Regions from separate parts of the Homo sapiens genome. Here regions 2 and 3 are each linked to region 1. Evidence: fine-mapped expression QTL. A gene starts in region 1. Each other region holds a variant in brackets. All regions are shown on one strand. Distances are between the middles of the regions.

The links. PIP is the estimated chance that this variant, and not a neighbour inherited with it, causes the effect.
Region 2: its variant is fine-mapped to the expression of ZNF277 in whole blood (TOPMed, PIP above 0.99).
Region 3: its variant is fine-mapped to the expression of ZNF277 in nasal epithelium (TOPMed, PIP above 0.99).

What each region holds. Positions count from the first base shown.
Region 1 is chr7:112,201,284-112,211,716 of GRCh38, reverse strand. It overlaps ZNF277 (zinc finger protein 277), which reads right to left and starts at 5,022. Exons shown (of 12, transcript NM_021994.3): 1 at 4,910-5,022. The coding sequence starts at 5,000. It overlaps DOCK4 (dedicator of cytokinesis 4), which reads left to right and starts at 5,318. Exons shown (of 53, transcript NM_001363540.2): 1 at 5,318-5,615. The coding sequence starts at 5,579. RefSeq lists an enhancer at 4,807-4,926 and a silencer at 5,097-5,446.
Region 2 is chr7:112,283,783-112,294,215 of GRCh38, reverse strand. It overlaps ZNF277 (zinc finger protein 277), which reads right to left. Exons shown (of 12, transcript NM_021994.3): 2 at 7,142-7,343. It also overlaps the pseudogene RN7SKP187. Among named protein-coding and RNA genes, the nearest start is that of ZNF277-AS1, 62 kb to the left of the region's middle. The variant ACTGGTCCTCTTCTAGTG/G (reference allele first, on the strand shown) is at 5,417.
Region 3 is chr7:112,333,436-112,343,868 of GRCh38, reverse strand. It overlaps ZNF277 (zinc finger protein 277), which reads right to left. Exons shown (of 12, transcript NM_021994.3): 8 at 7,698-7,765; 9 at 6,043-6,139; 10 at 3,984-4,026; 11 at 2,823-2,997; 12 at 1-1,308. The coding sequence ends at 1,140. It overlaps ZNF277-AS1 (ZNF277 antisense RNA 1), which reads left to right. Exons shown (of 3, transcript NR_186626.1): 2 at 2,747-2,814. Among named protein-coding and RNA genes, the nearest start is that of ZNF277-AS1, 12 kb to the left of the region's middle. The variant C/T (reference allele first, on the strand shown) is at 5,064.

The sequences.
Region 1 (10,433 bases):
AATCTTAAATGCCACACAGAGAGTTTGGACCTAATTATACATGTAGCAGAATTACACTGAAGATTTCAAGTGGAGATCCATGAATATATTTGTTTTACAATGTGGATTAAAGGAGGTAAAGTCAAGAGTCAGTGAGATCAACAGGAAGGTTTTGCAATCGTTCAGGCTAGAATTCCATTCTGGTCAAACACTTATTAAACATTAACAATGTGCCAAGAACAGAATCAGGCTGACAAACACACATACAACTGGTTCTCAAGAGCACTTTCTGGGGCATGGGAGATGCAGGTAGGTAATTCAGCAGTAATGGTGAGGGTTAGTAATGGAATTAGCACAGTGGCTGTAGCTATGAATAGAGGGAACAGGTTCAAAATATACTACAGGCGCAGAAAAATAAGGCTTGCTAACTGATCAAATTCAGTACCTGAGGGCGAGTTAGGAATCAAGGATGCTTCCTAGGTTTCTAGCTTAGACTTGATGCCATTTATTGAAATAGGAAATACAAGAATGAGGAGTTTACATCACCTGCTACCCTTCCCTCTTTCTTCCAGAGACATCACACATGAGATAGTAAGTTCTCTGGAAGATAAACATTACCAAAATCATCAGATAATAAGGTCCAGAATCCAAGCATTAGCAAAATCATCAACTACTAAACACCCATTCGGAGGGAAAAAAGTTGACTTTGACAGAATATTACAATATGGAGATACAGATTAATACTCAGAAGAAATAGCCTCAGTCACAAAAGCCTCCTAAATGTATTATTACTGAATTGTGCTACCTTGCTGATTTTTAAAAACAGCAAAAGAACAAATGCCAATGACACCACGTGAGGGATGCTGAATCTATTTATTATCTGTTCTTAATTTTAGGAGACAAATTGAAATTCTGGTTACTGTTCAGATGTATGTAAAGCAGTGTCCTTTAACCCTTGACCTAGTGTGCCAGGTGCAGTAGCTCACGCCTGTAATCCCAGCACTTTGGGAGGCCGAGGAGGGTGGATCACCTGTGGTCAGGAGTTTGAGACCAGCCTGGCCTAGATGGCGAAACTCTGTCTCTACTAAAAATATAAAAATTAGCTGGGCATGGTGGCACACGCCTGTAATCCCAGCTACTCGGGAGGCTGTGGCAGGAGAATCACTTGAACCCGGGAGGCGGAGGTTGCAGTGAGCTGAGATCGTGCCACTCCACTCCAGCTTGGGTTACAGAGCAGGACTCTGTCTCAAAAAAAAAAACAAAAAAAAAAAACAAAAAACAAAAACAAAAAAAGCAAAAAAATCCTTGACCTCAATGTGGGGACTTTCTTGGAGAAGGATGGAGCCACAGAAGTCTGGCAACACAGTGGTCTCAGTGAGTGTTGCACCTGCCTGCACCCCACCCACTGACTCACTCTAGCAGAGATTTTGAGGAATTGCAAGGATTTCTATAAAAAGTCTTCCTAGGCCTCACTGTCCCAGGGTATTAAACACACAGACTAACATTTTAATCAGAGCAAGAAGAAAATCTCTTAAAAGAAGCAGTTTTCAAGAAGTCAAAAAGGTGTATGTTTTTTAAAAATTTTATTTTTATTATACTTTAAGTTCCAGGGTACATGTGCACAACTTGGAGGTTTGTTGCATATGTATACATGTGCCATATTGGTTTGCTGCACCCATTAACTCGTCATTTACATTAGGTATTTCTCCTAATGCTATCCCTTCCCCATCCCCCAACCCCACGACAGGCCCGGGTATGTGATGTTCCCTGCCCTGTGTCCAAGTGTTCTCATTGTTCAATTTCCACCTATAAGTGAGAACATGTGGTGTTTGGTTTTCTGTCCTTGCGATAGTTTGCTCACAATGATGGTTTTCAGCTTCATCCATGTCCCTACAAAGGACATGAACTCATCCAAAAAGGTGTATGATTTTTACAGGGAAAGACATACTTGATAACCTAAATGACTGCCTAACAAAAAATATACTTTTAATATAAATATTTACACCTAAAATTTATATCACACCTTGTTGGCTTTGAAAAGATTTTGGAAAAAGTAACAGAATGATACATAGGTTATTAAGCAGAATTTTTAATGACAACTTTATCTTATAAAAATGACATAAAAAATCAACCATTAATTTCTCCTGTTGACTGCTACAAGTCAATGAGAATACTGGGTATTTCTCACCGAGGGTGAGAAATTTTTTTATGTTATAGATACCGCAAATTCACTACTACTCAACACTTTTATTGAAAACAAACTGGAATCAAAAACTAAGCTTTCTATCAGTTACTTAATTCAATCTACTAGTCATTGAAACATTGGTCCTGGATTATTTCCTCAAAGTTTGTGACAATATGGGGGAAAGAACACTCATATACTACAGGTGGCAATGTATGCTGAATATATTTTAAGAGGAAAGTCTGGCATCTGTCAAAATTTTAAACTTGCATAACCTTTGATCCAGCAATTTTCTCCCAAAATATACAACCAGTGGGCAAGAATATATGTACATAAAGTTGTTCATTGCAACATTACTGAAAAACTAAAGTCACACTATATGTTCATTTATAAGGGAATGGATAAAGAATGGCACAATCATATTTTGGAATATGATGGGCACAGTCCTTAAAAAAAAAGGAAACAAATGTACTGACGTGGAAGGGTTTCTATGATAGACTGCTGAAAGAAAAAAGAAGGTTGCAGATCTTTCAGTTTATATAGATTTATCCCTTTTTATTATAAAAATCAAATCATAGGCCGGGCGCGGTGGCTTACGCCTGTAATCCCAGCACTTTGGGAGGCCGAGACGGGCGGATCACGAGGTCAGCAGATCGAGACCTCCTGGCTAACACGGTGAAACCCCGTCTCTACTAAAAATACAAAAAACTAGCCGGGCTTGTTGGCTGGCGCCTGTAGTCCCAGTTACTCGGGAGGCTGAGGCAGGAGAATGGCGTGAACCTGGGAGGCGGAGCTTGCAGTGAGCCGAGATCGCGCCACTGCACTCCAGCCTGGTTGACAAAGCGAGACTCCGTCTCAAAAAAAAAAAAAAAAAAAAAAAATCAAATCATACAGACGTGTGTCATATAAGAATATGGTGGTTTAACAGAATACGGATTGTAGGATTAAAAAAAAAAAAAGAAGAAGAAGAATATGTTGGAAAGAATATGTACCAAACTCTTATCACTTAATACTCGGGGAGTGGTGCTGTGAGGTGAGGGAATTTTCATTTTTTTTACTTCATACACTTCTGAATGGTTTGAAGTGCTTTTAAAAACTTTTAAACTTGTAAAATTTAAAAATAAATATTTTTAAATATTTTACATTTTTGAAAGGCATATCCTTTTTTTTTGTTTTGTTTTTGATACAGAGTCTTGCTCTGCCTCCCAGGCTGGAGTGCAGTGGTGGATCATGGCTCACCACAACCTCCGCCTCCCGGGCTCAAGGGATTCTCCTGCCTCGGCCTCCCGAGTAGCTGGGACTACAGGCATCCGCCACCACGCCCGGCTAATTTTTGTATTTTTAGTAGAGACGGGGTTTCACCATATTGGCCAGGCTGGTCTCGAACTCCTGACCTTGTGATCCACTCGCCTCGGCCTCCCAAAGTGCTGGTATTACAGGGGTGAGCCACCGTGCCCGGCCATTTTTTAAAATAAGTTAGACTGTGAGATAAATTCACCAGTTTAGATCTTAAACTGGTAGCCCTCTGGAACTTTGAAAATCTAGGAAACCGTAATAGTCTGTTACCATCAGATAGCCCAATATATAACCAACCCAAAAATAAACCATTAGGGTGTTAAATTCAATATTTAACTCAGGAGACTACCAAAGATTTGTTTGGTAGAGGTACTAAAATAATTTCAGAGTAGGGAGTTCCACTGTTGGGAAGTGGGAAAAAACTGCACTTCAACTCTGTGCCGCTGAGGTAAATACTTAAGATGATATCAATTTAACTGTGAAAGCAAAAACAAATAAATCGAAAAACAAAGTCGCAACAGTCTGAGAACTATATTTAAGCCCCAAACCATGTTCATCAGAAAAAGACAACTTGTGCTAAATTACACATCAAGACAAAAATGGGGTGGGGGGAATGGGGGAGGGATAGACTAAAGGTAAAAGAGTCCTAAACACAATCCACCTGCAGCTTTCAAAATTTGGTTTTTTATTCCTACAGTGGATCAGAGGACAACCTGAAAGTCAGGTACAGCCAAAGTTGTGATGGTTTTCAAAACTCTTTTCAAATGTTCTTTGAAGCCACGAGTGCAAATTATCTATCACTTTCCTTTTCTTTCTCTAAGGACCCAGAGACTGGGAAGATCTCTCAGGCTCCACATACAAATCTGAAGAACACCCAGAGCAGTTAACCATCTACAGGGAGGTTGTGAGATACACACACTTTCCCTTCAGAGGTCACCTCAGCCACAAACTGGGCAAATCTGTAGAGTGGAGAGCAGTGACCACCAGTCTGCGACTGGAAATACTCCGGAAGCTAAATAAAACACACCTGCGAGGTCAAACCAAGCAAACCAAGGCAGTGTACTGGTGAGGAGAAAGAGCTGCTAATCCCAAAATTATAAACACACGCGCGCGAACCAGATCTGAACCAAACCCACTCAGCAGCTAGCTCAAAGCTGGGAGCTCCAAACCAGAAGACAAACGCTCAGGGAGCTTCCCCGGCGGAGGGGAAGGCCATTCCATGGCATTTTCTCCGCCATCCCATGGCATTTTCTCCGCCATCCCCGGGCAGCCCCAACCAAGTAGCCGCCACCGGCTCCAACCCATCCCGCTGGGCCACCACCCGTGGGGCCCAGTCGAACCCAGGTGGCCCCAGAGCTGAAGGGCTCCTAGGGTCAGACCAGAGGTCCGTTGCACACCCGGTCATAGAGAAAGGAAGACACATCAGCCGCGCCTCCGGGGCACCGTACTCACCCCCATAACCTACACCCCCGACTGTGCTGCAGCTCCCATCACGGTCTTCCTGCATTCGGGCGACAGCCCCCTGGGTCTTGGAAGCAGCCATTACCCGGCAGAAAAGAAAAGGGAGGGCCGCAGGGCGGGTCGGAGGCGGGGTGGCACCAGTAGAAACGCTACTGGAGGCGAACTCCCCGTCGACGTAATGTTTTCTCCACACCTACGCCGCGCTCTGGACCAATAGGACGCAATCAGTAAAACTGAATCCCCGCCCCGAACCACATTTGCCGCGCCCACTTCCGGGATGGGGAGGCCAAGAACTACAATTCCCAGCGTGCTGCGGGGCCCTGGGACGGGAGGGCTGGACTAGGCGCTGGCGGGCGGGGGTGCGCCGGAGAGTGCCCCGGCGTGTTCGCTTAGTTCAGTGAATCAGAACAATGACTGCGCCGCCGGGTACCCGGGAGCGCGTCGGAGGACTGTGAGCAGCCGCCGCCGGGAGAGCTGCGGGCGGCGCAGTGTCAACGCTGGGCTCGGGAGCCTCCAGCGCAGATCCTGCCCAGCGCCCGCAGCCCGCGCGAAGCCGCTGGGCTCCGGCACTGCAGCGCTGCTCGGGGACTGTGCATTGTTGTGAGCCGGAGAAGGGGCGCGGGGATTACAAAGCCTGAAGACCCCGGAGCCCCTTTAGCCATGTGGATACCTACGGAGCACGAGAAATACGGCGTGGGTGAGTCTCCGCGGGGCGAACTTTTATTCTGCTCTGGCCCGAGCGAGTGCGCATTTCTCGTCCTTGCCCCCGCGCCCCTCTCGCTCCGCCCGGTTGAAAATGCCTAATCCTGGCATCGCGCAGCTGGTACGGGGCTTTGCCGAGCCAGCTCCAGGCAGAGGGCTGCGCACCAGGCTCTCGCCCCGCACCGCCTGCTCGGCGCGCCCCGCACTGGTTCCCGAAGCGCCGGGACAGCTTGGGGGAGCGCGCGGCCGGCCCGCTAGCTTCGGGCTCTGCCTGCGGAGTTTGGAGTGGCGACTGGGCGTGTGTGTGTGTGTGTGTGTGTGTGTCAAGTTGGAAGAGGAGGCGAATGGGGTTTCTCTCCTTCCTTACCCTTCTTCCCCAAAGCGACAGGGAGCTGCAACGGTTCCTCTGGGTGGAGAGGGAGACAACAACACTCGGGCAGAGAGAACACCCCCAAAACAGTAGGGAGGCGCAAACCCTTCCCTCTGGCTCGGATCGACATTCCCGGAGTGTGGAATGTGGCAGGGTCCTGGAGAGAGCCGCTCTGACAAGCTGAGCCCTCTCTGACCCTCCTCCCTCTCTGCGATCCCGGATTTATGGGGTGTGTATGTTGCGGGGCGGGGGCATTGGTAAATTTCAACATCTGCGCCGCTCGGTTCTTTGGTCTTTGGAGAAGAACGGGTATTTCAGCAGTGTTTTTACTTCTGGCCACCCTCTCGACCCCGGGTGAGCGCAGTGGGGGCGGTGTGGCGGTACAGGGCTGCTGAGTGATAAATGGGGAGGGGGATCGGAAAGCCTGGTTCTTGGGGGCAGGGAGATAGCTTTTAGGAAAGCATACCCTGACACTGGCGTTCGGAGAAAAAGGAACAGGATAGCTCTCGCTGTTCTGTGTAAAGGTGAACAACAAAGGACATTAATGTTGACTGATGAATACAGGAGTCTCCCTTCCTTTTCCTCCTCCCATTTCAGGCGGGTTACAGTTCCCGTTTTTGTTGTTTGATTTCAGCTGGGTCGCCCCTTGACAGTTACTCCTTTTAGGGTTGAGACTATTAAGAAGCCAGGCTCTCCGACAAGGCTGCAGCCGGCCAAATGCAATTATAACCTCCCAGAAGGTCTAACAGAAAGCATTATGGATTTTACTAACACTCTTTATTTCCTATAATGCCCTGTTCTGCCGACTGGTGTACTTTGTGTGTGTGTGTGTGTGTGTGTGTGTTTTAAAATTGAGGACAGGTCTAGTGATTTAGGTGATGTGTAGATATCTGCTTATGTTCTAAATTCATTTTCCTGCAATTTAAAACATCTGGAAAGCCTTCCCAGGGAGTCGTAGTCCGAGGGGATTTTTGTTTTTTTTTTTCCCAACTTTGCCTGGGGATAGGACTTTGGGGTCCATTGAAAGGACTGTAGGATTCAACAAAATCATTCCCACATTTCACGTTAGCTTCCATTCTGGATTGTGACTAATTACCAAGACAATAGTTTGACCTGAACCCACCTTTGGGAAAGGTTTCCAGCTTTCCCTCCTTCAAAGTGTCAGAGGAGTCTTTGCCAGCCTCTTTACTGGCAAGGAGTAGATGTTAGTAGTTGTTATTTTCGTTCTCCTCACTCTTCTCTTTTTTGGGAGGTAGATTAACCCTTGCTAGGGAAAAAGATAGTCCCTTTGCTGGACTGGTGAGGGACCCGAGGGCATCGCCTCCTAAGCGGCTTTAACACTCAGTGCAGGAAGCTCAGATCCATCCAGGCAAAACTGTCCTGCTTGGAGTCGATCCCAGATGTTGCTTTCTTCCAAGTGTTAAATTATACAGATTATGGATGGGATTTATTTTCTTGATTTCTTCATGTGCCAGGTCACAGCTGGGGTGCTGGTATCGATTAGTTCCTCTCTTGCCTTTCTTTACAAGCGGTGGGCAGAGGCTTAAAAACCACTCTGGGATTTCCTGGAATGGCAAACCGGATATTATCAGTCAAATGTTTTGGGCTGCAGCAGACACCTCGGTTTTGGGTGGTTGTGATTTGATTGCAGAGTAGGGGAGGCAGAAGGGTGTGCTCACAATTGAGAAAAAGAGGTTGAATGAGATGAAGGACGAGAGCAGAGAGAGGGTCTTTTGCCCCAAATTACTGCTGTTGTTCTCAATATCACATGTGCCAGAATGTTAATTAACCTTTATTATTAATTTTTGAGCATTTGGATTGTGGAATGCTTAGCTGTTTTTTAGAATCCATCTGTTAGGCGTGTGTGTGTGTGTGTGTGTGTGTGTGTGTGTGTGTGTGTAGTGAAATTTTTGCTAGGATACTTATGTGTGGACTTTATTTTTCACCATGGAGGGCACTGTTTATAGCTGCTTATATTGCAAGTTGTTTGTTTTTTCTTTTAACCTTGGTTAATGTTTGTGTTTTTCTCATGTAGTTCTTACAGATGTTAAAGAAAAGATCTTATGGGCACAGATCTTTGTTACCAAGTGTAGTGGTAATTTAGTTTCTTCATTCTTTGAAATAAATCAGTCTTTGTAACAGAATATGTGACGTTTTAGTATAAATTATATATTTCTGCAAAGGTACTTTTTATATACCCTCATTTATGTATGAGATAATTATGCTTTTATATACTTATGATTAAATTTTAAGCAGCATACTGTAAACATGGGTAAAATTAGTTAAATTTTATATCTGTAATTAAATGTATCGGAGATGGAAATTCTTTTTCGTAACTGATGTATAGGCACCGTCCCATTTAATGAATGATTAAATTCATTAAAACAACGAAAAGTCAGTCATAAGTGTTCTGATTTTAGGAAAAGGTATAGTGATGAAGTTATAGTTCTGAGGAACAGGGAACCTTGTCTTTTAGAAATCATGTTAAGAGGCACAGTGATAGGCAATTTCACCTTAGGAGATTCTAGTTAGCTCTTGATTCTGGGCTAGACACTGCTGCCAGCTGTGTAACCTTAGGTAAATCACTTAGCCTTTCTGGGTCCCAGCGTCTGGGGCAAGTGTTAACTAAAGCCTTCCCTGGTACTAATTTTGTAGAGCTCTTCCAACTAACTGTGTTCTTTGGTTAGAAAAACATCTTCATTGTGTTGAGACTGCTATGACAGAGACACTTTTGTTGTGACATATCTCACTTGGTTTTTAAGTAAGATCAGAGGTAAGCAAACGCTACCTGGCAAGCTGCCAGAACTGAGGTGCTGGTTCCTCTCTTTCTCAATTTGTTTGATTCTCTCTGGCTAGTAGGAGCTCCATGGGCAGTGACTGAAGCATTTTGTTTGTTTTTTAAATGTATTTTCCTTGACAAATAATAATAATATATTTTTTAAGTTTTCATTTTTTTTTTTTTAATTTAGAGACAGGGTTTTGCTCTGTTGCCCAGGCTGGAGTGCAGTGGCTATTCATAGGCGCCATCATAGTGCACTATAGCCTGTAGCCTCAAGCTCCTGGTTGATCGCCTCAAGCAATACTCCCACCTCAGCCTCCTGAGTAACTGGGATTACTGACATGCACCTTCTCACCCAGCTGTATATATTTATGGTGTACAGTGTGATATTTTGATGTACGTTTACAGTTGGAGTGATTAATCAGGCTATTAACAAATTACACCTCATATAATTACCATTTTTGTGGTGTAAAAAACATTTAAAATCCATTCTAGCACTTTTGAAGTATACAATGCATTGTTATTTATTGTATCTCCATTCTGTGGATATCACCTCCCATCTGTTAGAATGGCTGTATAAAAACAATGAAAGGTAACAAGTATTGGTGAGAGTGCAGAGAAAAGGGAACGCTGTGCACATGTTAGTGGGAATGTAAATTAATACAGCTGTTATGTAAAACAGCATGGAGGACCTTCAATGAACTAAAAATAGAATTACCATATGATCCAACAATTCCACTGCTTGGTATATATTCACAGGAATTGAAATCAGTATGCTGAAGAAATATCTGCTATCCCATGTTCATTGAAGCAGTTCTCAAAATGTCTGAGATATGAAAGCAACCTAAGTGTCCATCATCAGATGAATGGGTAAAGAGAATGTAGTATCTATACACAATGGAATATTATATAGTCTTGAAAAAGGGGAAAATCCTGTCATTTTCAGTAATGTGGAGGGTATTATAGTAAATGAAGTAAGTGTAAGTCTGGCACAGAAAGATAAGTACTGCATGATCTTGCTTACATGTGCAATCTAAAGAAGTTTACTTCATAAATATAGAGATTAAAGTGATGGTTGCCAGAGTCTGGGGGAAGAGGGTGGTTGGGGAAAGTGGAGATGATGATCAAAGTGTACAAAGTTTTGGTGAGACAGGGGGAACATGCTTTAGTGATCTATCGCACAGAATGGTGACTAAAGCATTCTTGATCGCATACTCACCAATTTCCTCAGATTACCTCTACCTCCTGCATGTCCTCATCTGTTAGCACACCCCCCCATTCCTCCCCCCTCCCCACCCCGCCTTAAAGTGGTGGGAATTATTCATGGAGAAAGCTAAGACCTTTGCAGATTGTTTTTGCGTTCATTTGTCCAACAGGCTTTTATGCACAGATTCACAGATGAGTCATGGCATCTTCCTGAGCTGAAGGCTGCACCCCTCAAACCTAGCCAGATGTTTTACATGTGTGAGCTTAGTTAAGCTTGACAGGAGAACACGGGCTGGATTGATCGGTGCAGAAAATCCATGAACCTTATAAGAAACAAAACTCAGAACAAGCTGATCTGAAGTCACAGTGTCATTTAAAAAATAAATTGTGTGGTGCGAGTATCACTCAGTCATCACATAAATTCCTGTATTCTATTTTTCTTGAAGGAGTTTTTGAAC
Region 2 (10,433 bases), 82 kb before region 1:
GCTTTCCCCACCACCCCATGGTAGAGAGGAAAAAAGGGGAAAGAGAAGACAAGAGGAGGCTTAAGAGAATAAAAATGACATTCCTAGTCCTTTTCTTATTCTCCCCCAAGCACATTTTCTATTACAAAGTGGTGACAGGGATGAAGGAACACAGTAGAACCTGTATTAGAGATGTTAGAACAGAAGATGGATTATTCCTCTAAATTGAAATATAGACATCTATTTTCATGATTAATCAAATTTATACATGGCAGAACCAGGTGCTAAGATAACTGACTTCAAAAGACAGGAAGGCCAAGTTCCCTCTGGAGGTTCCCTACTGCTACTGCTAGAATACACCAAGGAGTGGATCGTCAGTCCTGGTTGCCACTCCATTGAGGACTATCTGGATGGTATCCTCTAGACAAAACGGAGACTAGTGGTCAGCCCTATATAATTAGTTCCATTTTGGGTCTAGAGCCTGTTGAAAGGCAGTGATAACTCCTTGAATACACAGACTACTTTACTTTGGAAAATGTTCACAGTCTTAGAAAAGTATCTGTGTGAAACCATGTGGAACAGATGACCAGGCAAGAGCTTGGATCCTCGTGAACAGACTGCTCTTTGAATTATTAATGACTTTTTTTTTTTTTTTTTGAGATAAGATCTGGCTCTATTGCCCAGGCTGGAGTGCAGTGGAGTGATCTCAGCTCTCTGCAACCTCTGCCTCCTGGGCTGAAGACATCCTCCCCACCTCAGCCTCCCGAGTAGCTGGGACTATAGGCACGCACCACCATGCCCAACTAATTTTCCTATTTTTTTTGTAGAGATGGGGTTTTGCCATGTTGCCCAGGCTAGTCTTGAACTTGTGAGCTCAAGCAATCTGCCCGTCTTGGACTCCCAAAGTGCTGGGATTACAGGTGAGAGCCACTGTGCCTGGCCAATGACTTTTTTTTAAATGGACAATCAATATTGTCCCTTGCTTATCTGCACAGATCTTATGCTAGAAGCAGTTTTGCTTTTTAAATTAAGACAGTGGTCAAAGTATCATAGTTAATGTATTAATTACCACCCCGGAGGCAATGGTGAATAGAGAAGCAAGGACTTTGAATTCAAAGGTATGAACCTGAACTTAAAGTTATTTAATCTTTCTGAAACTCAGTTTATTCATGTGCAAAATAAATTGTTGATAATTAAATAGAATAATGCATGTAAAGCACGCTGTCCAAAATTCTGGGTGTTTAATATATATGACAGTTATTACTATAAGAAAAAGTAACATATTTAAATAAGACTAAGGTAGTGAATAATTTATATTTATCCCAGGGAAATAATGAGACACACAACAAAAACAACAACAACATTTCAGCAAACATTTGATGAAAAAGACAAAATAGTTATATTAATAGCGTCAGAGGGCACATATAGGTGGCTAAAGTGGTAGAAGAGAAGAATGATGATAGTGACAATAATGACAATTATTAGCAGCTACCATTTAATGAGTCCTTACTTGCCCAAGGTCAATTAAAATGTTAGAATTGAGATGTGAACTTTGTCTCTCTGGCTCCAAGGCCAAACTCAATCTTCTACAACACAGTTCCTCTAGTGTCATGTGGGGACGAATCGGTACAAGAAATGCAGAAAAGGGAAGGCAGGGACAGGAAAGAGCCCCTATAATTAAAGTTGTAATAGAGAGTTGAAGCATTTTTTTCCCCTCAGAGACCAATGAGGTCACATAGAATGCTTTTTGACAAGGCAGAACCAGAAGTACAGAAATGAAGTCTGAAGAGGAAGAGAATGTTTTCCCCTTCCGAAAGGCATACTACTTAACAGTAGCCCTCAGTCTGAACTGCTCCTAAGTTGCTACCTAAGGGCTGAAAATTGACACCAACTGTTTGGGGCTGTTTTGGAACTGCTTAACTAGGCAAGGAAAGGGTGCAGAGAAGTTCCACTACAGAGGTAACAGGAGCCTGATTCCAATAGTCAGTGGGTCTCAGTTTCCAAAAACTTCTATGTTTGAGTACTGTCTCTTTGATGTCTGAAGAGAAGAATCACATGACATGCTTACTTTCCATCAGAGTTTACTTCAAGGTGATATGCACATGGGAAGAAATTACTGACATCAATTAACTTAGAATCATGGGGAGATTCTGCCTGGCAGAACCTCGGTTGCCCTCCTCAAATAGGAAGTGTTTCCCATGGGATAAAGCAGGTAATAGGTTGGTCCAAGAGGAACAAAGTTGTCATTTGAGTGTTCTCTTCCTAACCAAAACTTGGGTGACAACAACATCAAAGAAAAAAAAATCATCTGTTACAAAGCAAAATATAACCATAAACCATCATACAACTTAAACATATAAAATTAGGCATCATATCTTACTGTGGTATACTATAGACAACAACAACAACATACATTTGACCTATGTCTAAATTTGAGTAAAGAAACATCCTAGTTATTAAACACATAATAGTGGTTTTTAAGCTTATAATTAAGAGGTGTCAATATATACATTTCCTTTCGGATGGTATGGGCATTCAGATAAATTGTAATCAACTGAGTGATAGAATAAAGATAGCAGATCTTCAGTACATGCTTCTTGTGGCATTTTTTCCCACTCACTAGAACACTGTTCAAATTTAAGAGCTCATTTAGTACTTCTCTTCTGTATTTTTCCTACTTCTCTAGTTTACTGAAAGCTACAATTGCAGCTACTCAATATATAAAGGCCACTAAGAAATAACATGTGGTAGGAACTCTATTTGGATGAGTTATCAAAGTATTTCATACTTCATTAAAAATCTATAAAAGTAATTACTAGGTCATCAGCAAATACTTTTTTTCTTCCAAAGGAACTTCAAATCATGTCTCACAGAATTGTCTCACAAAAAATCCTTGTTGCAATATCTTGCCTGCCCACCCTCACTGTAATTGGTATGGTTATTGACATAGTCATAAAGGTTTGAAATATGGTTGTTAATTAAGTAGCAGTGAATGTGTGGAATTTAATATAGAAAAGGGTAAGAAATAAGAAGTTAACATTTATTTTCCAGAGCAATTTTATCTACTGAATAAAGCTAGCAAATAGCTCAGTATAAATAACTATGTTAAATGGACTCAATGGAAAGATTTTTATTTTTGTTTTTATTTCTCCTGCCCCAGGAAGTTTTAGTGTTATTTTGTTTCATAAAAAATTATATATTTAGTATGAAAACTTATAGCTTACTTCTTGTAAACCACAAGGTAAGTCCATCTCTTATTTATTATCATCTTCATTATCTATTGTACTCAGAAGCAACAATTCCTCTTGAGTTCTGAGTGAATGTGTTCATGCCAAATAAATCTCTCATGTTCCCTCCTCCCAACCCTACACCTTATACCTTGTCTTCTAAAATTAGAAACAAGTTACATGATGTTGAAAAGATTCCAACTTAACTTTGATCATAACAATCAATACCTGGATTGTTTGGGAGAGGAATTTTTAGTTTCCTTAAGTAGTAGGAGGTTATTATCTAAAGAAGACTGGATACAGTCAAAGGTATTTAAAAGCAACAGAGTTTACTCAGATACATGCCTGATCAATCAGAATTAATCACATTTATACTTGCTGAGAGTGAAAATTTTACTTAATTAGAAGGACAGTTGACAAGGAAAATCTAGGTTTCCATATTTCAAATACATGTTAAAGATACACTTTAGAAAGCACTTATATCAGATATGCATCCTTTTCTTTTTAATTAAAGCATCCATTTTATTGTATATCTGCATTTAGAGCATGAATAATCCCAGCATTTAATTACTGACTCCTAAGTCCCGAGACCTAGTAAATAATTCAATTTTTCTGCCCACGTATGCATATTAGGATAATGAGATTAATAACAATGATACAAATAGAGAGATTGATTAGTACAAATATAGCTACTTAACTATGACACATAAGCACAAAGGAGAATACAAACTCTGATTCAGACATTCCTCACATACTTTACGGGCAGAGGAGAAAGAAAAATCTTAAACTATTCAATTATCACTGGTAGTTAATACTGTTCTTCTGCAATTCCTGAAGGAAAATTTGTGTTTATATGATAAAAGGGAATAAAAGAACAGTTTCATGGCTAGGCACGGTGGCTCACACCTGTAATCCCAACACTTCAGGAGGCCGAGGTGGGTGGATTGCTTGAGCCCAGGAGTTCTAGACCAGCCTGGGCAACATGGTGAAACCATAAAAATTTAAAAACATAAAAAATTAGGTGCAGCGCACCAGCATGGCACATGTATACGTGTGTAACTAACCTGCACAATGTGCACATGTACCCTAAAACTTAAAGTATAAGAAAAAAAAAAAATTAGCCAGGCGTAGTGGTGCATGCCTGTAGTCCCAGCTACTTGGGGAGGCTGAGGTGGAAGGATTGCTTGAGCCAGGGAGGTGGAGGTTGTACTGAGCCAAGGTCGTGCCACTGCACTCCAGCCAGGACTCAAAAAGAAAAATAAAGGTTTCATATTAAAGAAAAGCTGACTAATAGAAGCCTTAGGAAAGAATAACCTATGTAGTATTTCTTTCAATGGTTGAGTATGAATTAGAAGATCTCTAGCCTAAGAAGTGTCTGAAACAAAATCAACAGATCTCACCACATATAACTGGGTTGCATATAAGAAAGCTCCCAGAATACTCTGAGAATAAAGACATACACACACATATATTTTAATGAGAATAAAGAATAACAAATGATAATGAGGAGCAGAGAGTATGTCCTATGAGAGCATGTAGGGAATTAGTTTATTTTAGCAGTTGGCAATATATATCATTCAATTAACTGTCCTCCTATCTCTGAGACCTGATAAGGCAGCACCAAAATCTCTTGAAAAATAGTAGTGCTGAGTCGATATAAGGCAACATACACAGAAGGCACATGGTAAATATTCAGTATTGGTGCTAGGCAATAAGGACAGAGATGAAGGCTAGAGAATAGTTATCATTACCCCTGTGGGTATGCTGGCTATTCCAACTTAAACTATCTTTCCAAAAATTTAGATTATTTAGAAACTTGAATGAAATTTTCTCAAAAGCTATATTTTACAAATGATAATTAGGTTTTTAGATTAGCATAAATACAAATGGAAAACTCAAACGATAGCTGCAGAAAACTAAGATTTCAAATATACCTTCGGTGATAAAAATACAAATAAAATTTTGCATTTTATCTACCATTTATCAGGTACACATGTCTCAGGCACTAGCAGATGCTACACATACTCTTCTTTTTTTTTTTTTTTTTTTTTTTTTTTTAAGAAAGGCAGACTGCCACATGCAGCACTTCATTTGGATGTGTCTGGAATCTTGGAAGCTTGACTACCCTATGTTCTCCTACAAATGGACTTGAGAGCTTGTCTGGAGGTTCCAGCAGGGAAGCGCAGCTACTCGTATACCCTTGACCAAAG[ACTGGTCCTCTTCTAGTG/G]GAGATGGTTGTCCTCTTTGACTGAGAACACAGCTTTGGGAGGCATGAACATGGAGTGGTGAGGGAGGAAGGGGACAGCCACTTAGCCAGCCAGATCAGCCGAATCAACCCTGGCGATTAATGGGGTGACAGATGTCACAGCCAGATCGCCCTCACATTCCATACTTTGTTTTATGTAATATTCAATAACCATGAGGGCTGGTGTTACCCCCATTTTATAGATGAGAAAATCAATGCTTAGAGTAGTTAGGTAGCTTGGCAGGAAATCACAAGATTAGGAAGTGTGAAAGCCTGCACTCAACCCCAGGCTTTCCTACTTTCATAGTCAGCTCTTAATAATACAGCTTGCTCTTTTGCAAGACCTATCATAAGAAAGAAGCTGTTTGCTAGGAATGTTTTATATGGCCTGGGAGAAACAGAGTTTAGATGCAGGGGTATTCAATGTCTGGGCTACTACAATGTTTTATGGGGAAATCAGGACAGAATACCTCAAAATGGGACCTTACCAGATACACCAAATTTTATGCTTTCAGTAACTATACAGGGAAGGTATTTCTCTTGGACAACTACTTCCAGAAATTATAAATTGGGAAAAAAGGAATCAACCTCATCACAACATTTAAACTGAGATTTGTTTGGGCAATATCCTTTTGGCTTGAAAGTCTCCAAGGATCCCATTCCCAAACACTGCCTTTTGAGTGTCCTGTTGCCAAGTCTATTCTGGAATTACTGGAAGGACCCACTCAGAGAATGTCTATGGCCTAAAACATGAGACATAATCTGGGAGACATCAATAAGATCTACAATGTCATGGAATGCTGCAAAGTGAGTATTATCTACTCTTTGGAAAGTTCATCTCTTTAGAGAACTTATAGAAAATAAATTAGTATGTGACATTCTCAAACTTACAGACTCAAGAAAAATAATGTAAAGATTTTTTTAAAGTCTGAGAAGTTGGCTGGGTGCAGTGGCTCATGCCTGTAATCCCAGCACTGTGGGAGGCTGAGGTGGGCAGATCACCTGAGCTCAGGAGTTCGAGACAGGCCTGGCCAACATGGTGAAACCCCATCTCTACTAAGAATACAAAAATTAGCTGGGCGTGGTGGCAGGTGCCTGTAATCCCAGCTACTCAGGAGGCTGAGGCAGGAGAATCGCTTGAACATGGGAGGCAGAAGTTGCAACAAGCTGAGATCGTGCCACTGCACTCCAGCCTGGGTGACAATAGCAAAACTCCATCTCAAAAAAAAAAAAAAAGTCTCAGAAGTACAAAAGAGTTGTAAAGTTTTTTTTTTTAAGTCTAAGGAGAAACCTGAAAATGAATATGAATTTTCATATTTGTATGGGAATTATTTTATATATAGATTATGTCACTCCTTTAACAAACAATACATTTAATTCTCTTTCTTAAGAGACAGGGTCTCATTCTGTCACCCAGGCTGGAGTGCAATGGTATAACCATAACTCACTGCAGCCTCGAACTCATGGGTGCAAGCAGCCCTCCTGCCTCAACCTCCCAAGTAGCTGGAACTACAGGTGCATGCCATTGATCCTAGATAATTTTTAAATTTTGTTTTTAGAGCTGGCATCTTGAACTACTACTGGCCTCGGGTGATCCTCCCACTTTGGCCTCCCAAAGTACTAGGATTACAGACATGAGCCACCACACATGGTCAAATTTAATTCTTTTAAGGACAAAAACAGAACTTACCTTTGGAAATCAGCAACCAACTTGACATCAGCTATGACAATCTTATGCTCAATAATCATGTGCTTCAGAAGTTTGTCTTGTTCAGCCACAGGAAAATGTTCTTCACAGAAAATACAAGGCACAGATGGAGAACCTTCTAAAGTGGTGGTGCCACCTGGACTTTCTGGCAGGGAAAGCGGCTCCAGGATACAATCCTTACTGTCTGGAATAGACCAAAAAAAAAAAAAAAAAAAGAAAGAAAGAAAAGCTGAAACCAACTCTTCATATGGATGATTTCCCACCTCCTGCATTAAAAAGATCCTAAAGATATTTACATGTCTCCAAAAAGAAAAATACATAGTGCTGGAGAGTAGGATACTTTATTATCATTTTAAACAGTGTTTGTAGCCCAGAGGCAGGGAGTATTGCAAAGCAGCTCAAACCCCTCATTTGCTTGCTTGAATGGGGGAAACCCATTTGTCAGGGCAGCTGTTCAAGCCTTCTTCTTGGACACTGGCCAATGGCAGCAATTCCCGGGGTACTTGCAAGGGGGAAGGCTGCAACACTCTGGGTTAAGGTTCTAAGGCTCAATTGTGACCTATGGCTAAGAATCATCACACCAAGGGAATAAATGGTATACATTAAGGCGACAGATGATGCCAGGCCTGTCTGTTAAGTTGCTTCCTGTCGCATCTGCAAACTCTTTCCTGTTTCTGATTATTTGTCACAAACAAGAACAAAGCTCTCACGCTGGGTAGACACAGTATGTGCTGGGTGGCCCTCATGGCAATTTTCTATGTTGACTTATGTTTATCATTTGCCTATTACACAAGTATGCATTACAATTCAGGCTTCTGTGAACAAATAGATGACTGCTCGATCACTAGACATATGTGATGTGGTAAACATTTTTCCTGGCTATATTATTCCTCTTCCTAACATCTTCTACAGCATCTTTAAGAGCTGAAGTATGTGTAAAGTCTATGTCTCTCATTTCAGAGCCTAAAACCACAGCCAGTCGTGACAGTAGCCCCCTTTAGTCTGCCAGAGTGGACGTCTACACCTGTCACCTTATACAGGCTATTTAGTAGTTAGTAATCAGGAAACTGGGGTAAAGAAACTAGGGTAAGGCCTCTGGCATTTGCAGAAAGTCAGGCAACCTTCAGAAAGAAGAGAACCTTCTTCAGAAAGAAAGACACAAAAACTAAGCCACAGACAAGTTTTCAGAATTAGGTTAATATTAGTTCTCCCGTTAAAGTTTCCTATTTTTTTCCCTTACTTTATCTTCTTTTTAAAGGTTTTCTTAATTTATGAATTAATTGAATCAGTCACTGGTACACTGGTGACCATGGCTTGAGAATTATGTAAGTGCGGTGGCTCACATCTGTAATCCCAGAGCTTTGGGAGGCCGAGGTGGGCGGATCATGAGGTTAGGAGTTTGAGACCAGCCTGGCCAACATGGTAAAACCCCGTCTCTACTAAAAATACAAAAAATTAGCCAAGTGTGGTAGTGTGTGCCTGTCATCCCAACTACTCGGGAGGCTGAGGCAGGAGACTTGCTTGAACCTGGGAAGTGAAGGTTGCAGTAAGCTGAGATGGCGCCACTGCACTCTAGCCTGGGTGACAGGGCTAGACATCATTCCAAAAAAAAAAAAAAAAAATTTCCTATTTTTTTTTTCTTACTTTATCTTCTTTTTAAAGGCATTCTTAATTTATGAATTAATTGAATCAGTCACTGGTACACTGGTGACCATGGCTTAAGAATTATGTAAGTGTGGTGGCTCAAGCCTGTAATCCCAGCACTTTGGGAGGCAGAGGCGGGCAGATCACAAGGTCAAGAGATCAAGACCATCCTGGCCAGCATGGTGAAACCGTGTCTCTACTAAAAAAATACAAAAATAAGCTGGGCGTGGTGGTGCACACCTGTAGTCCTAGCTACTTGGGAGGCTGAGGTAGGAGAATTGCTTGAACCCAGGTGGTGGAGGTTTCAGTGAGCAGAGATCATGCCACTGCACTCCAGCCTGGTGACAGAGCGTGACTCTGTCTCAAAAAGAAAAAAAAGAAATTATATAAGCAATGTAAGAGGGCAGCATTCATTCATTCACTTAACAAAAATCAACTGACTATCTACAGGGATGTTCGATGTTGCATGATGTTCAGTGCTACCAAGGTTAAAGTGCTCACAGTCTGTTTGAAGGTACAAGTAAGTTAAAAATATAAAGAAATGGAGAATGTACAGGGTTTACAGCAGCAGCGGTTGGGGGAGTCACTTAACTGAGCTGGAGAAGGAAGGTGTCCCATAGAAGAGGGTCTCTAATACATCACCCAAACATACTCTAGTCACATTAAAGTATGCTAAATCAAACTGTTTATTTTTGTTCACAAAATTAATATCAGAGAAGGTGAAAACACATAGGATATACATGACAGTACGGAGAATATTTAAAATACATAAGCCCTTTAGAAGCACTATTAACAAAACTGGTGTTATCAATTACTATATTTATTAAATTAGGTAATGAAATCAAGGAGTTCTGGAATTCTACAGTTCTTCAGTTGTAGGTTATATTTTTTAGTAGTAGGTTAACTTTCATAGGCATTTAAACTCAAATGTGAAAAACAGAATGGAGGAAGAGAGATAAGTAATATACTTATGAAACTCTATGATAGTATTTTACATCCACTAGTATATAGCTACAAAAGGCAGCATATTCTAAATAAAGGTAACATTAGTAATTATTACCTGCCATGTAGGAAATAACAAGTACTATATTACATCCTTTCCACAGATTTAATTGAGATATACAGAAATTTATTGGTTTGACTGCTGAAAACAAGCCTATGGTATTAATAATAATCAACAGCACAACTAACATTTATCAGCTACTTGCTATTTGCAAATTACCTGCAAGGTGTGTTAGGACATTTTCCTAATTAATTCTAACTATCTTATTCAGTAGTACTACCATAATCCAATCTTCCAGATGAGAGAATCAAGATTTAGAAAACTTAACTAAGTTCCCAAAGTCACAATGTTAGTCAGTAGCCTAAACATTCTGAGTTGAGCCTAAACTCAAACACTATGCTGTTCTGCTCCCTGTACCAAATGGCATTTCTCCAACTGTTTCTTCTTTAGTATGTATATTTGGTGCTGTGAAGTTATATATATACATTTATAAGCTACTTTGTCTTTATATGTACTCTGACAATGTCCTCCAGTCTCCCTAATACCCCATAGCAATTCTTATGCAAATATCAGTAGCCCACATTGTCCAAAAATCACTAGAGTACAGTTCATCTCCATAATTTTCTT
Region 3 (10,433 bases), 130 kb before region 1:
CTGCAACTTTTGCCTCCTGGATTCAAGCGATTCTTGTGCTTCAGCCTCCCAAGTAGCTGGGACTATAGGTGCATTCCACCATGCCTGGCTAATCTGTGTATTTTTCGTAGAGATGGGGTTTTGCCACGTTGGCCAGGCTGATCTTGAACTCCTGACCTCATGTGATCCTCTGCCTTGGCCTCCCAAAGTGCTGGGATTACAGATATGAGCTACTGTGCCCAGCCTCAAACTTGGATTTGACTGTTTCTTCATTATATCCAAATTATGCATTTTTGGTATAAATCTACAAAAGTGATATTCTGTCCTCCTCAGTACATCTTATCAGGAGGCATATAATATTCATCAGTAATGAAACTGATAATATTGTAAACATACATTTTGAGACAAGTGGGAAAAACTGAAAACAGATGATATTAAGTTAATGTTAATGTTTTTTAGGTGTCATAATGGTATTGTGGTTATGTTTTTAAAAAATGGCATTTAAATGTTAGTGACATACAAATTGCAGGGAAAAGTGAAGTTAACTGGCTTGATGTCTATTTCTAGGGAATTTGGCCACCCTAGGCAGAAAGTGGTAATAACACAGTCAGCTCTTGATTGTTCTAATATAATGGCCAATTTGCATATTATCCACGTCTTTGACCATTTCTTCTTTCTTCTGTGGCTTTTCTTTTAGTCATTACATTTACAGCTCACCCAATATAGTACAGAAGGGATATTCAAATTTTGCAACTTGTTGGATGAAGAAGGTCCTTGGGGAGGAGACTGAAACTACTGATTGAAAAATCAGGTTTATAAATAATTTGAACATTTCATTTCTTTGTAATTGACATATACTTCTATATATAATTATGAGTTTAATGAAGTGAGATAATTTAAGATGATCACACAATAAAACTTTACAGCCAAAATACAAAGTCTTCATCTTATTTTCCTACTTCATTTTTTTTCATGTTCTTAGTAAGTGCATTTTTCTACTTTATTTTTTGAAAAGAACATTCATTTTTGAAAAGTTTATTTCACCAAGGACCAATCTTTTGTTGATGTTCAAATTTAAATTGTTCTTTCATATCTGTCTCATAGGAGAAAAACATGAAAAATTGCTTCTGTGGTAGTTTCTTCTAGGTTTTCAAGTACTCTTATAGTAGCAACTGGTTCAAAATACTGCTTTGTTTCAAAGCATACAGTTTAGATGTATCTTCACTGATGATGGGAACATTTTCATTTTGTTCCTGAGCTGTCAGGTCACTTTCACTGTCAGATAGTGTACACAGGAGAGTGTCATTTTCATAGGTTGGAAAATAATACCTGAAAACAACCACAGATACATAGTATTAAATTACCAAGCTAATACAGTGTCCAGGTAGCTGAATGTACACATTTACTATAATTTTGTCAGGTATCCTTGCCAACAATTTCATAGCATTTTGCAAAGGCTATACTGGAGACAACTTCTGATTGCTTTCACTTTGACTTTTACTGGCTGACATCAACCTTACCAAATCTACTATCCAGATTTGGTAAACCAAGATCGTGGACCTCCCACCCTCCAGAGTTGCCTCTGGAGTTGTCCGCTGGCCACTTAGCCTCTGCTTGATCATCTATCATGATAACAAAACACACTATCTTCGAAGGTAGCTGACCCCAGTAGTGGGTAGATCTAGTTGTTTGATACACCTCCTGTGAAGCTAAAAATGACATCTTTCTCATTTCTACTCAAAGGTCCTAGTTCTTCCTTATAAGTTAACAAACTTCAAATATAGTTAATTTTTCAAACACAAATTATTCAAATAATTGAGAATAATAAGCTCTTCCTTGTGTTTTGTTTTCCAGCCTAATAGTTCCTTCTTTCTAGGTAATCACAAAAGGAAACACTTACGGAATATAAAGTTTGTTATTCTGGTTCCTTCTCTGAATACATTTTGAAGTTACTTTTGGAATATTACAAATTTTAATTTATATAAGAAGGATCATAAAAACAGGGTACCCTCACAAGTGTGGGATTTTCTGAAGGAGAAAAACTAGAACTTTCTGGTTAAAGTTCTGGGGGAACTGACTTAACATTCCCTAAGAACAGAAGGAGCTCTGGGCAGCTAGAACCCCACAGTCTCTCAGAGGAGCCCTCGACTGAGGTTATCCAGAACGATGTGAGAACCAGTCCAGAAGGTTCTTGGCAAAGGATACTTGGGAACCAGTCCACAAAGTTCTGGCAAAGGATACATGGGAATCCAACAACAGATGACCAACTGCTTAATTTTTTCAAGTGCCAATATACAAAATATATACAAAAAGTCCTAGCAGTGTGCAAACTCTGACATAGTAATTTTATTTCTAGGAGTTCAGCTTAATTAAATAATTAGATAAGTGTGCTAAAATGTAGGCATATAGATTCACTGTATCATTATAATAGCAAAAAGTAAGAAACAACCTAAGTATCTCGCAGAATAGATTATATCCATACAATGGATATTTAGCAACCATTAGAAAGGATGCAACAGATGGATACTGGCTATTGAAAGATATTTACAATATTTTGTTAATAAAATATAATTTAAAAAATCTGTATCTACTTCATCTCTCTACATATGTATCTATCTCCATATCACAAATACTGAAAAATACTTGGTTTCATTTGTAAGAGGGGGATTATTTTAAAAATAAGCATTTTGAATATTTTTACATTTTTCCCCACACTGTACTGATGTATACTTTTTATAATAAATATGTATTCCTTTTTTTTCTGTAGGCTTAAAGAAATTAAATAAAGGGACAAAATCAAAGAGTTGGAGTAAGAAGTGCACATTTGGTTTTGCAGTACGTACTCCAGTTGATCCCACGTCTTTCTATCGGGGAGCAGCGAAGTGTGTTTAGTTTCTTCCATGTGAGTTCTTAAGTCTGCTTTGGATTTGAACTTCACATGGCAGCCATAACATCTGCATTGGTGAACTTGCCTCCGAATAAAATTGACCAGTTTCACTTGCTGATAGAAATTTAATCCTGAAAATGACAAAATACAGAATCATTAGACAACTGTTCAGACCCATTTTTTGCACTATTATAATTTCTTAAAGGAGCCACTTATTTTTATTAATCAACCTGAAGAGGCAGTACAATTATAAAGCATAATAATAGATACCAAATAATAACAGCACATATTTACACAGGGCTTATGAGCTAGGCACTATTCTAATAATTTTCCATGTATTAATACATTTAATCTTCATAAAACCCTATCAGATAGGTAGTATCATACCTACATTACATATTAGGAAACTGCCTAGCATCGCATAGATAGCTGTCAGCTGCAAAGCCCATGCTTGACTACTAAGCTAATTATATAAACAATGTATATATATGTCTATAAAAGCAGCAAAGTAACACATCCAAGGACCTAGGAAAGCAGTGACTGAGCTGAGCTGTGAGAAGTAAGTTTTTTACTGTCTTAGATCTATTAGCAAGTCAGTACTTTACGTATGTCTTAATGCCCCAAATCGTTCTATTGTTGTGATACTTAGAATGATACATTGGGTACACCTATAACAAACAATCCTAGCTATACTGCTAAGCAGTGCAGTAGCCATTTACCATACATTATTCACTCCTCATAACATTTTTCTGACCTGAGGCCCAATGTCATAGCCAGTAAGTGCCAGAGCTGGAATCTGAACTCTAGTTTGACTTAAAAATCCATATTCCACTAGCCCCCTCCAATTTATGATATATTATTAACCACTAACTTATATTTCACTTGAAGCACTCATATATGTAGGAAAGAGAAAGAAGGAGTATATGAAACCAAAAACCATATTTGACTATTATGGTTGAGCATCACTGCTTCACAGAGAGTTCTGTCAAGACCATCTATAGAGAGACATGTTTTGGTGGTGCACTCTCCAATCATAGCTACTGAACATAGGCATAGCTTACAGGATGGTTTATAAAAAATGAAGCATCACAGAAAAAAACCTCTGAATCAAACTTACCAAGTTCTGACTTTATTTTGAGAAGATCAAATTCGTGTGCATCCTAAAAAAGGAATGAATACATCTGTAAGCATATGAATTATTTAATCTTTCAGGCTGAAGTTATAAACAACTTATTCACAGGAGTTTGAGTAGTTTAGAAACTCAGTCTGAGTTCGGTATCTTCTGCTTTTGAAGTCTTCCAAGTCTAACTACTTCCCTCCATACCCAACTTTTTTACAGCATAGTCCAAACAAGTCATGTCAATCAGTTAAACCATTATAATTGGGCCGGGCGCGGTGGCTCACGCCTATAATCCCAGCACTTTGGGAGACCGAGGTGGGCGGATCACCCGAGGTCAGGAGTTTGAGACCAGCCTGGCCAACATGGCAAAACCCCGTCTCTACTAAAAATACAAAAATTGGCTGGGTGTGGTGGTGGGTGCCTGTAATCCCAGCTACTCAGAAGGCTGAGGCACGAGAATCGCTTGAACCTAGCAGGCAGAGGTTGCAGTGAGCTGAGATCGTGACACTGCACTCCAGCCTGGGTGACACAGCGAGACTCCATATCAAAGAACAGCAACAACATTATAATTGCTCATAGCTTATATCTATAGTTTTTATAATTTACAATGTTATCCATTTTGTAGCCTTCTAAAAATGTAGAAGTCTATGTATGCATTCTGCAGTGTGATAAAAGTGTAGGTAAGATATGTTTCTATTGTACTGTGCATTTGGACTAGAATTATGGATATAGGTTCTTTGCCCCACATAGGTAATTTTTACAAATTCTGCTTTTCATTTTATGCTGTCAAATACACTGTTTAAACCTCAAAGCTTCTCTTCACTCACACCTTCCTATAAATCACGCTTTCTTTTGATTTTTACAATGCACTTATTTTTTGCGTGTTTGTTTGACACCTGCAATTGTCTGTGTAAATGTTTTAACCTACAATCTCACAGATGATAAAGACCATTTAACTCACTGGGATGGCATTTAGTGTAGCACCATATGAAGGATGATTAGGAATTCGTGATGTTATCACTGAAAGTGACCCAGCAGAGGTTAAGGACACCTGTCAAGGATGCCGAAAAGGTAATC[C/T]TTACACAGGATAGGCATACTAAGGCTGCCTTCAATACAAAGACATTAAGATATTATGAATTAAATCTAAACACAGGAAATTATACACACATACTAGTGGGAACCTTTTTCAGAGAAACTAAAATCAAGGAAAATGTTTATGGTCTTTTGAGCGCTTTCTAGGCCCTTATTTTACTAAACTAAGAACAGTATTTCTGAATAAGGGTGAGGTGAAAGTGGGTGAAAGTAGAGAATATGGTCCACTATTGGCAGAGGTGGCTGCAGGGAGGGGACGGAGAGATATCAGAATCATCCAGTAATATTTTTCTATTATAATCACCCCTCTGCCCACAAGCTGTGATACTATCATGAATCATTACATGTTCCCCTTCCCTATCCGCCTTGTGCAGCTAAGGATCAGAGGTGCAGGGTGTGTGTCCTCTCTCAGGTATACTGGGGTGAAAAAGGTTTAGAACTGCTAGCTCCAAGCTTCACTATAACATAAAAATGGCATCCAGAAGGGAAAGCCCACACTAGGAATGCTCCCTAGTTTCTTCTCTCTAAATCCTGGCACCTGAAGGAACTGTAGGATCATGCCCTAGCTCCTCTCTACCCACCCTCCTTTTTCCCTATTCCTCCGGGACCTTTGTAAATGGCAATGTTCTCCCTTCTTGCTCTCCTATTCACCAGCACAAGAAGCACTGGAAAAAAGACTCAGAACCTGTCCCACCTGCTGAGCTAGAATGATCTTGTAAGCATCTCAAAGGTGAGATGGCATCAGTGGTCTGAGAAATCTCACACTAACAAACAGCTCACTCGGGTCCAGTCAACTGTACTAACTAAATTGCCCTGAGCTCTGGTTCTCCCTGACAGACCTGGCCTGTCTCTTCTGGTTGGAATAATGATTGGGAAACTGAAGTAAAAGCAGATGAGGGTGCAACAATTACTAGCTTTCCCCTGTCAGAATAAAACAAAATTCAAATAAATACAGGTATCTTACCTCCATGTGGACATACAACTTCTCAATTGTTTCTGCTTGCTTTTCACAAAATAAGCAGACTGCAGAGGCAGGGTGTTCTTCCCAATCAGACCAGTCACTGAATTAAAAAAGAGGAGAGAAAATACGGAGATTCCCTTCATTAAGAGAGTATACTACACAGTGACTTGGTATTGCTTTCTCCTTACTAAAAAACCCTGCCAATCTCTTTCAACTCTGACATTTTGGTAAAGACTGTCACATCATATTATGACTCTCTGATATAGCTTTTGAAATTCAAAGCAGCACCATGAAATTAATATACATAGTGAACAGGTGCTGTTCCATTTTCTCCTATTTGCCGTTCTTCTGAGTAGCTATCTCAGTCTACAGTCAGAGGAATGTCGTCCTGAGACAATGAGGTTTAATTTGCAAAGGAGACATATCAGAAAATGTGATGCTCTCTCCCATTAACCACAACCACTGAGTGCACACGCTGTGAGGTGTGATGCCGGGAATGTGTTTCTGCATGACAAATAGTGTATTTTACAAAGGCAAACCGTGTCTCTTTCACGAGGGAAATACTGATTATTTTAAACTGGGCAAGTGTTAAATCTGGCGGTAGACAGGGAACTCAAAAAGGATACAGGATCCCTTTTACCACTTTCCCCGCTCCTTGGCATTTCCCTTTTTGAAATACTACCAACTTCTTATCATTCCCAAACCAGGAAAACTGCCAGGAGGGAAGAGTTGTGGAGACAAGGAACACCCATTCAAATTCAGATGAGAGAATTTTTCATGGCAAGCTCAGAAATGATCACTGATAAGACTCTCAAGATCAACCTAACCCAATTCACACAGAAGCTTCCCTATTAGAAAACAGGAAACATTTTCCTTAACTCTATCCATCCAGGAGGGAGCCACCAGTCCCGGCCCAGGTCATGACTTACTATTTATAACCTTTTGTGTCATTAAAACTTTAACATTCACTGATTAAATATTCCAACTAGTATGTCTTAATGGGAAAGATGTTTTTATTTCAGTCTGGAAGACTCTCTGCCTGAATCTCTATGCATCAAGAAAATTCAGCAAATGGCAGCTCTCTACCTTTGGGCTTTACCTCACTATTAAAATAATAATAATTTAAAATCCTGAGAGAGAAAAAAGGCCAAAAAGCTTTGACTGAAAAGAAGATGAAAAATAAGAAATCCTTTTAGGTTGAAAAGAACATTTCTCAAGCTTATAATTTCAAGCAAAGAAGCTGTGAATGTTTAAAGTTAGTCATCAATGGCCCGAACACAGAACAGGATTAACTTCAATGCAGTTATATTCTCTATTCCAATGACAGCAACATGGAGAGTTCAAAGATCACATCACTTCAAGGTCTGAGCACTAACTGAGCAGGCAAAGCACTTCGGAATGTATTTTTCTCTGAATTATATATTACTTGTGTGTTCAATCAATAGCTTTAATTTAGTTGGAATAACAGTGTCTTTAGGAATTTTTATGTCAAAGTTATTTTGAATTCAAGTTTTTGCCACATTACATGAAGGGATGCATGGCTCAGAGAAGGTATTTTTTTCTTCTTATGTTCCCGCTTCATAATTTAAACCAAACTAAAGCATTGTCTTCTTACTCTTGGAACACTGCAATTAATTAGCAGCAATAACAACTCTTACTCTTCCTGATGGTCCAGCAACTCCCGATCATCTTCCAACTGAACTTCTTCCCACGATTTTCCAAGTTCCTTTGTAGGAAGAACAGAGGGATGAGAGACATTGGGGGAAAGAGAAGGGAGAGAGTATGTAGAACTTTGAAAAAAATCAAAACCAAAAAAATAAACAAAACCACCCATGTTTAAATGGTTTTGAAACAGTACAAGTAGGATATACAGATGGCCCAACTTATGATGGTTTGATTCAACACTTTTTTTTGACTTAATGACAGTGCAAAAGCAATATGAAGTTGAAACCTTAATGAGATAATTTTTTAGAGAAGCAGCAATATCCTTTCAGTCAAGTTCTTTTCTCTTAAATTTGAACCAGTGTTTCTAAACCCTGAATGAGTATTAGAATATCTGGGATTCTAATGGCCTTTGTTCATTGTTACATTTCCAGAGCCTGGCATACAGTGGGTACTATTACTATAAACTATTTTTTGAGTTGAATTAGAAAGTAGAATTCAATTTGTTAGAAATAAAAAATAAAAAAATACACTTGAGGTCAATTTAGATTCTACCTCAAAAGGTTTTTTTAAGGTGATTAAATGAATGAGTTACTGTCTATAAAGAAATAGTACTAGGCATGAGTAGGTGCTCTAGTACCTACTCAAATCCCTTTTATCCTTTGCCATCAGTGGAAAAGTTCCACTCTTTTGGCGCTATGTCTGGCAAGCCTAGTCACAGCGTTAGCAAAACTTTATGGAGTGATGAGTAGGAATGATTTATTTTGGCCCAATTCTTTTGTTCCCCTTGGGCCGTTTCTTCCTCTCTTCTTGCCCTGTCTTCTTTCTATCCAATCTTCCCATTGTGCCATGCAAAAGCAGACAATGTCACAAAGAGAGAGGTAGGAACATTAATGGATATGTTTTCAAGCAGCTAAACTATGGTTAGGATCAGGCCCACCTGACCTGCTACAAGCATGGATAGCTTTGTTGTTCAATATCCTTTTGGAAAAACAAAACCAAAATTCACTCAATTATGGACTCTTTTTCCCCCAAATAAAGGTATTCATCTAGCTAAAAACAAAGAACTATGAGTGCCATTATGATTTAGAGGGAGAAAGAAAATCCATTATTCATCAACTTAATGAGAGGTTTTGAAGCTGTCATTATCAGCTAAATGATGCATACATTTAGATATACAGAGATCTATCATAATGTCATTAGAGATGGTTAATTTGGACTCTATAATGTACTTCCCAGAGTCATCATGAAGTGTCTGAATCTCATTACAGAACACCAAAAATGGCCTCAACACTGCCAACAAGATGCTTGTTAGAAAGTTTGGTAATGAATTAAATCTTTCATGCCTTACTTGGTTTTTCTGTACTTGGACTTAAGGTCATGGTTTTATTGCTGCAAGGTATTACTAAAGTATGGGCCTTCTGTGATTTGATCATTCTGAATGATAAGGGCAAATGTTGCTTGTCAATGAATATTTTGAGCCAAAAGTACAAAAAATATCTTTCACTGTTAAACTTCTAAACTCAAAGCATTATTTTGCAACTTCCTCAGTGTTGAGTACAATATGTAGAGAGTTATCTAGGCCACACAGCATTAACCACTTACCCCACTTGAGAGGAAAATGAATGTACATGTTTATCAGTATATTAGGAAATAAGCAATTTGCACGTGAAAGTGGCCCAGTTTCCTAGAGTGCTCTGATTTGGTACAGTTAAAGATATGATTTATTATAGAAACAAGACCCAAAGCAAAAAAAAAAAAAAAAGCACATAACTCTCTAATTAAGACACTGTGCCTGCTAATGAATCATGTCAGGAAAGCAAAGAATGTAAGAAAAACAAAGTTTGGAAGGCATATCACTAAAGATGTTCAGACACCCCCTCAAACCCCTGCATCAGATGGCTCATGAATAATGAGAGGGTGGAAAAAAACATGGAAAAAAAAGATCCCCTTCACCCATCACACTTCTGCCCTAATACATACACACTTACATGTGCTTACACAAAACTCCACCAGAAACAGAAAGAGAAGTGTTTTAAGTGTAAATAACTTCACTAGAGAAAACTATAAAAAACTATGAAAAATCAGTTAAAAGCTTACTTTTGTTATAAGTGGCTTTGTATACTTTAAGAATAAAAAAATTTAAATCAAAGAATGATAAAAATCATAGCAAAACCAATTCCCTTTAGAAAAACTCAGGGTTTGAAACATGAGCATCGTAGGAATATGTAGCTGAAGCCTCGATGTTAAACAGTCTGTTGCCCTCTGAGGAAGGGTTATCTGAATGTGAAACTAACTGGCACCTTATCCCCAACCCATCCTCACTACCTGTTGAACTCTTTTGTTTGTGAGAAAACAAAGCAAGAATTTGATGTAGATAATTCAGACTATGCAAAAGACTTTTAATGTTTTTGCAAGTCTGTTACTATTCAGAAACTGATATGAATGATTCAGCACAGAAATTATCTCACCTAAGAAGGAAAATGGAACTTGTCAATTTGCTGAGCTCAGAAAGCCAAATGCAGCCTCTCTGTCCATTTGCTCTCCTACTTCTGCTGCCTATTAGAGTGTATCTTGCTACGGATACCCTGGATGTTCCCATCATTGTTGCGCTGGCAGAGTCTATGGCGTTTGAAGTGGAGGTGAGGAGCTCTGTGTGTGAATGACTCAATGACTGCATATATCTGCTATAGGAGAGGTCGAACGCTGACTTTCCATATACCATTACAAAG